Linked DNA regions of Homo sapiens. The protein of the gene in region 3 purifies or fractionates together with the protein of the main gene of each other region. This does not show direct contact. Each region holds a gene or a part of one and is shown on either strand. Other genes may lie near its edges.

Region 1 (3,692 bases), on a different chromosome or scaffold from region 3:
GGCTTATGTATGTAATCAACCCTTGGCTATTACCAGCCCCTCTCCCTCCAGAGCTTTCCTGAATTTTGCTTTTTTGAGGGAAGTTGGTCTCTGTGACCAGTAAACCCAGCCCCAAGTTTACCGGCCGAAGGAAGGGAAAGTTAAGAGTGATAGGGCATGAAGTGAAAGGCTTCAGGTGGGAAGTGCTCTTAAGTAGCACAAGAGAGGTGGGTGGAACCTGAGTAGGTAGGGAGAAGTGGGAGGGAACAAGCCAAGCAGAAGCCCAGGGCCATTCTCACATTTCAACACGTAGAGTTAAGGAAGGGCCTCTTCCTCTGTGAGAATTCAGCATTTTGCAACCATCCAAAAATGTTGAGGGCATGCTTTGCTTCCAGGGCAGACAGAGCAGCACAGTGAGCATGGGACACAGGATCCCTGACTTGCTGTGTGCCCTTAAACCAGCCACTACCTCTCTGACGTTCAAAATTGAGCAATGGAAGGCAGCCTGCCCAACTGTTACCTGCCTGTCATCATGAAAGCCTGCGGATGAGGTAATGTCTGTAAATCCCAGTCTGAGAAAAAAAAGCCGTGGAAATAGAGAAGGAGCCTCCTGAATGTGTGACTCTTTTGGGTAAATGCCCTCCATTCCTTAAGAAACAATTTATTAATTATATATTGTGTGTCACTTTAAGAAGATGGATCTGTGGCCTCTCTGTACTGTTGAGCCAATGGGAAGCTTAAAGGCACTTTGTGATTCACAGATTCTGTCAAGGCCCCTGGATGGCCTTGTCTGTACAAAGACACTTCAGAATTCAGTCAGTGGGTATGGGACGCCTCCCAGGATGCAAAGAGCTTAGATATTGGCTTTCTAGCCATGGGCATTATGCTAAGGGCTGTGTGTGATGTACCTCAAAAAATAGCCATTTAAGCCATACTTGGGCCCTGGCAACAGAGGGTGCAAATTCTTGAAAGAAATTGTTTTGAGAAGGCAGAGCTTGAGTTCAGGCAGAATTTCTTGCAGGGATCATTCTGGTTGCGTGGCATTTTGATAGACTTTGGGCAACTCAGATACAGGCAGTGAGAGAGGGAAGTAAATAGGACCTTCTTGCGAGATGCCTGAGAAAGACCCAGTGATGACTTCATCAGTAGACCTTTTGATTCTGTTTGCGTCATTATTTGGTCATTGTAGAGCAATGGTTCTTAGGCTTTAATCTCTAGGTAAAACAGAGGTGTGTTTAGTCTGTCCATGTTCTCTGTTTTCTAAGTAAGGCAGGAGGTGAGGTCCTCTGCAGGAAATAAAGGTGATGGACTGGTTAGGAAACTTCAGGAGACTTCAGGGTTTGGAACAGTTGCCTATGTGGGTGGAATAAGAAATAAACTGGGGAAGAATGAGAGAATTGTCTAACTTCACTGAAGGCCTGGCTGAGATCAAAGAGAATTTGCAGGGCTGACCCTCAGAGAAGACATGCAGTAACTCTTAAGGAATATCCGAGAACTATTTTTGATTTGTGCTTTTAAAATATGATGCTTTAAGATTTGTTTTGGCAAGATATGAATGGCAAGATAAGAATTCAGAACTAGAGGTCAGCCCCCTATCTCCAAGTCTGTTATACTTCCATATGGGAAAGAGAAATGAGGACCTGCTTCTTAGGGTTTGAAGTGGAAACTATACGACAGAAGGATTTTCTAAAGAACTCTCCTCAGATTCTTATATTGACAAGGCAGCCTTGGATATGGGACCTTAGAGAAGCATGATATTTTAACTTTCTTGTTAATTTTTTTAAACCAGAAGTTAAGAATTTTGGTCATTGGCTCATGCAGTCAACAAATCATTCATGAAGTATTAATTAAGCAAGTAATTCCTGGTGTGTGCCTATCTCTGTGCTGGTTGCTATGGGTCAAACTCAGATAAGATGACTATCCTTGGCATTCTTAGCAATCCAAAGAATTAGTGAAATATAAAGCAGTTTGTCGTGCAGTTAAAAACTGTGGACTCTAGACTGTGAGTGCTAAGGGAGTGAGAGAAATAAAGGTCATTAAGGGGCTTGGCTGGTCAGACCTTTGTGGAAAAGGCATGTCTTCGTGTGGGCCATGATAGATCGGTAAGATTTGAGAAGGGAAGAAGACAGTCCATAAGGGAGTGGAGACAGTTTGAGCAAAGGCACAAAGGAAGAGTATCCTTGGACAGGTTTATTATGCCCTGTATACCTTGGCCACAGAGAATGGTCTGCATGATCCTTAACACATGTCTTTAAGGAAGCCCTTTGGATGGAATGTCTCAACTGTAGTCATGGTCATTTGCTTTAGTGTTGGGAGGGTCCTGAGAGAGGCCCAAATCCAGTGATTCTTAACTGGTTGCTGTTGTGGTTTTTTTAGTACACAAAATGGACAATGTTGACATGCTGAACACATCAGCCCCCACAGCCAACCCCCCAACTCTGCTCCATTCCTGCCACTCAAGGGAAGAGATGAACATGCAAGCAATAATATCACACAGAGATCTTGAACCCTCGCCTCACATACAATAAAATGTACCTTGTTTGCAAACCTCAGTGCTTAAGCTATTATTAGCACAAGTTACCCGCAATAACCTTCACAAGGCAGGTTTGGACATCATGGTTGAGAGAGAACCAAGGCTAACCTCCACATTTTACAGACAGAGAAATTTGCCCTTTTAGAGTGAGTGAAAATGTGATTTGGGGGCCTTTGTCTTCATACTGAGCCATGTTCGAGTTGTGGTTTCACATCGATGGAGCTGAGTTCCACGTGCTCCGATCTGGTGGCCAGACCTGAAGCCCTCCTCTTTGTTTCCGTAGCAGATGCATGGCTTCCCTTGTGAGTTTTAGCAGGTGCATCTGAGAGGCAGCTCCTCTCCCCACATACGCGTCATGTTGGTGTTCCTCATATGACAGCCCCAGGGCCCCAGCAGGAGCAAATCAGCAAGCCACCTTGGTGGCATGACTTCCCCTCCTGAGAGCATGAGGCCGTTCCCCTGAGCTGCTGGTAGCCTGGTTTGGTGTCACCACAAAGGCCACCTCAACCTTAACAACACAGGAAGCAGCTGGGCAAAATGGCAAACGAAGGGGAAAGTCCTTTAGCCCCCACCAAGATCTTTTTCTCTGTCTACTCAGTCTACTCATAAACAACGAGGAGGATAGGCCTTCTCCAGTGGCCCAAGTCGAGGCTGACTTGATTTCTCGGCTCTGACTGCAGGTCCCCTGTGTGGAGAGAAGCTGTAGGTGATAGGGCCTCTGGTCCCGGAGGACAGGAGCAGGGGACTGAAACAACAAAGACCACCTTGCCAGTCAGTGCTGGGTACCGGCCAGGTGTCTGAACTGCTAACAAGGAGACTTTGGGTGGTTGTCTTCTAAAGCAAATTATTAAATTTTGATCAAAACGATATATACAAATGTTTTAAAAAATCAAATAGTATTGAAAGCCTTATAATGAAAAACAACCATCCAGCACCCACCCTCCCCTAGAGGCTGCCACTTTTAACTCACTGTTTCTTCTAGTAGCTGCCTCCAGATCTCTAAATGATATGCTTACACTGCTGTTTCTCGATTTATCTATTCTGCACGTTGTCTATTTACTTCCTGCTGTGATGGATGGAGATTTCACTTTCTTACACCATCTCCCTCCCTCCCCTGCCCCCGTCTCTCAAGATAGGAAGAGCTCTATTTTAACCTAAATCAGGTTTAAAGTGTCTACAT
Region 2 (2,453 bases), on a different chromosome or scaffold from region 3:
TTGATCTTCATTTTAGAAGGTTGTTTCTCTGACTTTGTAAGTTCATACATTAAAAAAACTACTGAGAAAATACAGTGATGATATGTAGAAAGGAAAAGATATAGTTATTTTGGCCCTAATCTGCTCACGATGGCGTCTCTTACCATTTCTCACTGGTAGGATCTTTTCCCCCTTCTCTAACTTTATTCTTCGTTCATTTTTATTTTGCTTCAGCTAGTTGTTAGAGGAAACAATTGAGATCATCTGAATTTTGCAATATACCCCAAATTCTGTCCTTTCCCCCAACAGTGGTTCTCGACCGTTTGTGGTAGCAGTAGATGACATCATGTTTCAGAAACCTGTTGAGGTTGGCTCATTGCTCTTTCTTTCTTCACAGGTAGGTGTGTGATGAGAGATGACATACAACTTTTTTTTTTCATTTGAGCCTAGAAGTTTCTATATCAAAAAGCCACTGTTTTCTCTTATGACTGCCTTTTTCCCCTTCCTAATGCAGTTGACTGATTATAGTGTCTATAATCTGTTAGGTATGCTTTACTCAGAATAATTATATTCAAGTCAGAGTACACAGTGAAGTGGCCTCCCTGCAGGAGAAGCAGCATACAACCACCAATGTCTTTCATTTCACGTTCATGTCGGAAAAAGAAGTGCCATTGGTTTTCCCAAAAACATATGGAGGTAAGTAGTGATTATTGCTTGTCCCTAACAAAGGGAAGAACTTCTAAGGACATTTTTCTCCTTTTGAATTGGAGGAAGTGTATTGATGCCTGTCAGCACAAGAGCATGTCTTCAGGAGATTTTGCTTTTGAGATTTGGCAGCCCTGAAGGCCAAAGATGCCTGTGGCCCCCAGGCGGGCAAGCAACCACTGGTAGTCAAAAACTGATCCAGCCAGGCTGGGCGTGGTGGCTCATGCCTGTAATCCCAGCACTTTGGGAGGCCGAGACGGGCAGATCACGAGTTCAGGAGATCGAGACCATCCTGGCTAACACGGTGAAACCCCGTCTCTACTAGAAAAAAAAAAAAAAAAAAAAAATTAGCCGGGCACGGTGGCGGGCACCTGTAGTCCCAGCTACTCGGGAGGCTGAGGCAGGAGAATGGCGTGAACCTGGGAGGCGGAGCTTGCAGTGAGCTGAGATTGTGCCACTGCACTCCAGTCTGGGCAACAGAGCGAGACTCCGTCTCAAAAAAAAAAAAAAAAAAAAAACTGATCCAGCCAAAGGAAGGGGACAGGAGTCATGGCCTGCTCCTTTGGGAATGTGGCACACCCCGGCCCAACAGTGTATCTTGTTCTGTCCCAGTGTTCCCAAGTAGTCTTGTGTTTGTATGATGATATGATGGTTTTCTACGGTATTACAAGTTTCTCCAAGGTTCTCTTTCTTGTGTTTCAGAGTCCATGTTGTACTTAGATGGGCAGCGGCATTTCAACTCCATGAGTGGCCCAGCGACCTTGAGAAAGGACTACCTTGTGGAGCCCTAAGAACACCACATTTGTTGAAAACTAGCACTCTACCCACAGTGACGTGGTATCTGATGAAGACCTGATCGAGTGTATTGATTTTAGTATTGCTTCGTGTCCTCCACACAGGAGGAGGATGTATTCAGCCTTTAGGATGATCAGAAAAGCAGAAAGAGAGAGTGGCCGGATGGGGCTGAGGGGAGAAAGAATTATTAAACAATAAATACTTTCAAGACAATTTTAATTGTGAACCTACCATGTTGCCTCCCATCTTCTGAAAAAACAAAAAAATTGAGAGGCTGGGCGTGGTGGCTCATGCCTATAATCCCAGCACTTTGGGAGGCTGAGGCGGGCGGATCATGAAGTCAGGAGATCAAGACCATCCTGGCCAACATGGTGAAACCCTGTCTCTACTAAAAATACAGAAAATTAGCCGTGGTGGCATGTGCCTGTAGTCCCAGCTACTTGGGAGGCTGAGGCAGGAGAATTGCTTGAACCCAGGAGGTGGAGGTTGCAGTGAGCTGAGATTGCACCATTGCACTCCAGCCTGGGCGACAGAGAGAGACTGTCTCAAAAATTAATTAATTAATTAATTAATTGAGGATACCATTGGATGCATTCTTTTCTTACACATATTGCAACTGTCAGTATACAAGGTTTCCTGCCAGGGTATTTGGATGACGTTCTTTAAACCTAACCACTTGCTCTGTGCTGTCTAAATCCCATCAGCCGTACATGATTCCTTTGCTTCCCTCTATTTCCCAGCTTTTGTTGTCAGAGGGTAGATGAAAAGTTGGGGCGAAGGGATTTAACAAAAGTTACTGCATCCGTAAAGATTTGTGGGAAGATTTAGGTCTGAAACCATACCATTAGAAGGTGTTTAGAGATGATCTAGATAAGGAAATACAGGACCATTTGGTCATTCTTTCATTCACCAGACAGCTATTTAGCACATTCTGCTAGTGGCTCCGCAGGATATATCTGATTTAAAAAATAGGA
Region 3 (3,692 bases):
CCAGCCTCCTTATCCATGCCCTTCAGGACAGCCTCACAGCCTCCTCAATATTACAAACTATTATACTTTTTACATGTGGACAAGTAAACAAAGAGGTGTGATGTTTAGACATTGACAGGGCCTGTGACCGTTTTCGGAGACTAACACGACTGTTGAAAAATATTTCTTGTTCACCCTTAAAAACAGTGAAAATAAAACATGTATGACCAACTAGTGAAGTCCACCTAAATCAACACTAGTCACAAGTATTGCAATTATTTATTTATTTTGCTCTAACACTGCCACGAAGACATCTAGAGGGACACAATTCTGCCTTCATTAGGGCTTTTCATAACACGTGCTCAACAAATACTTGAAAAAAAAGAATGGTCATGGAATTTAATACTTTTCTAGAATTAGGTGGCAGGAGCATGTGTACAAACATTTATTCAATTTTCATTACTTTGAAGTTTTACTAGATGTGATGGTTCATTTTCATCTCAAAAAATTTGATCTCCTTTTTGTTTTTAAAAAATGCATCTTTCTATAGTGTAAATACTTTATAATATTATTAGTTAATAATTTCTCAGAACAAAAATAATTTAAATTCCAGCCAATTTGAAAGACCACTTAGGAAGGTAATTAACTTTCAGAGGTAAACAAATAAACTTATTGATATTTGGAATATAGAAACTGCGTAGGAATCTCTGGTGTCATTTTGGTTGGAGGAAAACTTAAGGAAAAAAATTAAAACCTTTGGGTAATAATGCCTTATTCAATTGGGAAATATACAATTTTGCTAGAGGGCAAAGAAGGAGTGATCATCTTCCAGCCGGAGGCATTATCTCTAGAATTCTTGTAATAGTGACTTGGCTTGCTTAACTTGGGTAGAATTAATTGTCGTGAAGTTATGCTGATCTTTTTTATCCAGGCACTCCTAGTGCAAAAGTCCTTGGTAGAAGTGAATTCCTGACAATGGCAATGCTTTAGCTCTCTGAGAATCATTTTCTTGTATTTTTCCCCAAATTGCAATCATTTGTAGCATTAATTTACTATTCTTCATGTCCATCATGTAAGCATCTAATCTGATGGACTGATAGTAAAATACAATTCAATTACACCAGATAGTTGGAATTAAAAGTCCATTTCATTTGCTAACCCATTACAGCTTAACATAAAACAAAACATACAAAAACTTAACATAAAAATCAAGAGTCAACAAACAACCTTATCTAGACTCCAGTTTCAATAATTTCTTAGATAGGAGAGAAAAATCCTTAAATTCAGGATGGGTTCCAAATCAAATATGGATTGACTGGCAGCTGAAATGCTAATAAAGTCTGATGAGAAGTAAAATTTCCATAGTTATTATCCAGGTTTTGGAACATGACTATACCTGTAAAAAAATCAGAATGAAAATTATTTGTAATTGAAAAAGTGAAAGTCTGGGAGTTTTACATCAAATAGTTGGGCTGATATTTAATAATATCTTTCTAAGTTTTGTAAAGAAAGAAAAACATGCAAGGGAATTGATAACTTTTGAATGGAGAAATTTTTCCCCTTGTTAATTGACTTTGCTTTTGGTTTTTTAATCTGACTCAATTATACCAGTTTCTTATACCACAATTAATATGCAATTAGGACAGTAAGCCTTCCTTCCATCCATCTGTCCATCTCCCCATCTAGCCACACATATCCATTTGACATTACTATTGCTGCCAGTTCATACTTTTTAATGATAATATTAGCTAATAGTATTATATACTTACTATTGTTGAACTCTATTCTAAATTATTTACAGTCTTCATCTCTCATAATCTTCACATCAGCAGGAGGTAGGAGTTATTACTAGCATCATTTTACAGTTGAGAGTAATATATACTAGTTGAAATTCCTATGCTTTTTTGTTTTGTTTTGATTTAATTTTGGTTTCTCAGTAATCTTTTCTGAGGCTCAAGTTTTGAAAACTTCATGTAACAATGAGACAACAGTTGTCAATGCTTGAATTACCAGACTGGTCAGGACTAATGTGGTCCTAGTGACCTATGATATGTTAGTTGTAGTATGAAGGCATTATGGAGGAACATTATGGAAAGAAATGAAGAGTTAAAAAGGATTCTTTTCTAGAAAAGTTATATTAGAAATGTGTTTTTCTTTTACTACTACTATATTTTGCATACATAGTTCAGATTCATACATTTTAATTTCAAAAACTAAGGAAAGCACATATATGTACAAAAGTTCTTTCCAAATAATTACATCATTTTACTTGAAATTGAACAGAAAAGTCTTTATGGCAATCAGAAATACATGAAGTTTGGATCTTATATACCTTCTTTGTGTGAAAACACATTTTAAGAAACAAAATTATTATTGTAATTATGCAACCAAATGTTTAACTTTGCATACAGTATTTACCCCTTCCCATCATATTTTAGTTCAAGAGCTTTGACCTTTGTCCTGCTAGTGTTGCTGCTTTGAGAGAAGGTTTGCTATTCAGGTAGCACTTATTTAATATTTACTTCAAATATTGTGGTTGTAATTATTCTAGTGAGATATTTTCTCCAATCGGATTTGGCCATAATTATTGGAGTTTTGAGTTGTTAGGGATAATAAACAGCACCTTGCTTTTTTCCCCACCCTGGATAAAAGTAAAATGTGTTCTCACCCTGCAGGCAGTGTTCCTCTTTACATGATATCCTCCAAGATGATGAGTTCTAATCCTGAGGAAGACCCTTTGGACACATTTCTCCAGTACATTGAGGATATGGGGATGAAGGCCTATGATGGCTTGGTTATTCAGAATGCGTCAGATATTGCTCGAGAGAATGATCGCTTGAGAAATGAAACTAACCTAGCCTATTTGAAAGAGAAGAATGAAAAACGCCGAAGACAAGAAGAAGCAATAAAGCGGTAAATATAAATAAAATTATTTTGAGTTTTGTGCACATGAGAAAGTCCATGAGGGCTGCTAAAGTTGTGATGTTGTCACTTGGTCAGAAAAGGTCTTCCAGAGTCAGTTAGACTTGGTGAGAGCATATGAAAGCGACCCCTCAACTATAACAAAAACACCACCCACACTGCCAACAGCATCCTTAGTTAACAAAAGTTATTTCCTTGTGTGTGTGCATATGCAGCTACAGACAGGATGGGGAAAAATTCAATTTCCTCTGAACAAAAGCTCATACTCAATAACCTCTTGGCAAAGACGCAAGGGAACACACAAACCTTTTAATAGCCCAAGATTGATGAAAATCCCTACCTTTAATGGCCTTTGGTTATAGTTCTTACCTTTAAATAGAGCTCATCTTCTTTCTAGATTATGGCCAAGATACATCAATAATTATACTTACGTGAGCCTCTGAAGGCAGGTAGAATCCTCAGGGTGTGCTCTCCCTATGCAGACTTTTATGGCTGTTAAATTTCTTGTTTGTTACCAAGTGCCACAAGTTTGTTCAAATGGAATTACTTTTATGATGCAAAACCTACCAGCTACTAGCTGGTGAGCCCCAGATGGTGGCCTTCCAAATTGAGGTTAAATTTCCTAGAGCGCTGACACCAAAAGAAGAATGCATATCTTTTGATTTTTTAAAAAGAATGTTACAATGTTTTCAGTTTGCCTGTGTGTGTGTCTTCTGGTGGTACAGAGAGAGACACCTGTGTCAGATGGAGTCCTGTTTCTTCAAATAAAGTTCACTTACTAAGTGCAAAAT

Evidence for each region.
Region 1: the proteins of NYAP2 (region 3) and CYFIP2 purify together in Homo sapiens (affinity purification with western blotting, with the first as the bait; one study listed by BioGRID). This does not show direct contact.
Region 2: the proteins of NYAP2 (region 3) and ACOT9 purify together in Homo sapiens (affinity purification with western blotting, with the first as the bait; one study listed by BioGRID). This does not show direct contact.

What each region holds. Positions count from the first base shown.
Region 1 is NC_000005.10:157,269,054-157,272,745, forward strand, and holds part of CYFIP2 (cytoplasmic FMR1-interacting protein 2), read left to right. Parts: intron 1-270; exon of another isoform or gene 271-530; intron 531-3,692. UniProt on the Homo sapiens protein: Involved in T-cell adhesion and p53/TP53-dependent induction of apoptosis. Does not bind RNA. As component of the WAVE1 complex, required for BDNF-NTRK2 endocytic trafficking and signaling from early endosomes.
Region 2 is NC_000023.11:23,702,916-23,705,368, reverse strand, and holds part of ACOT9 (acyl-coenzyme A thioesterase 9, mitochondrial isoform a precursor), read left to right. Parts: intron 1-288; coding exon 289-376; intron 377-524; coding exon 525-675; intron 676-1,386; coding exon 1,387-1,475; 3' UTR 1,476-2,453. UniProt on the Homo sapiens protein: Mitochondrial acyl-CoA thioesterase. Catalyzes the hydrolysis of acyl-CoAs into free fatty acids and coenzyme A (CoA), regulating their respective intracellular levels. Regulates both mitochondrial lipid and amino acid metabolism.
Region 3 is NC_000002.12:225,406,210-225,409,901, forward strand, and holds part of NYAP2 (neuronal tyrosine-phosphorylated phosphoinositide-3-kinase adapter 2), read left to right. Parts: intron 1-2,654; 5' UTR 2,655-2,671; coding exon 2,672-2,892; intron 2,893-3,692.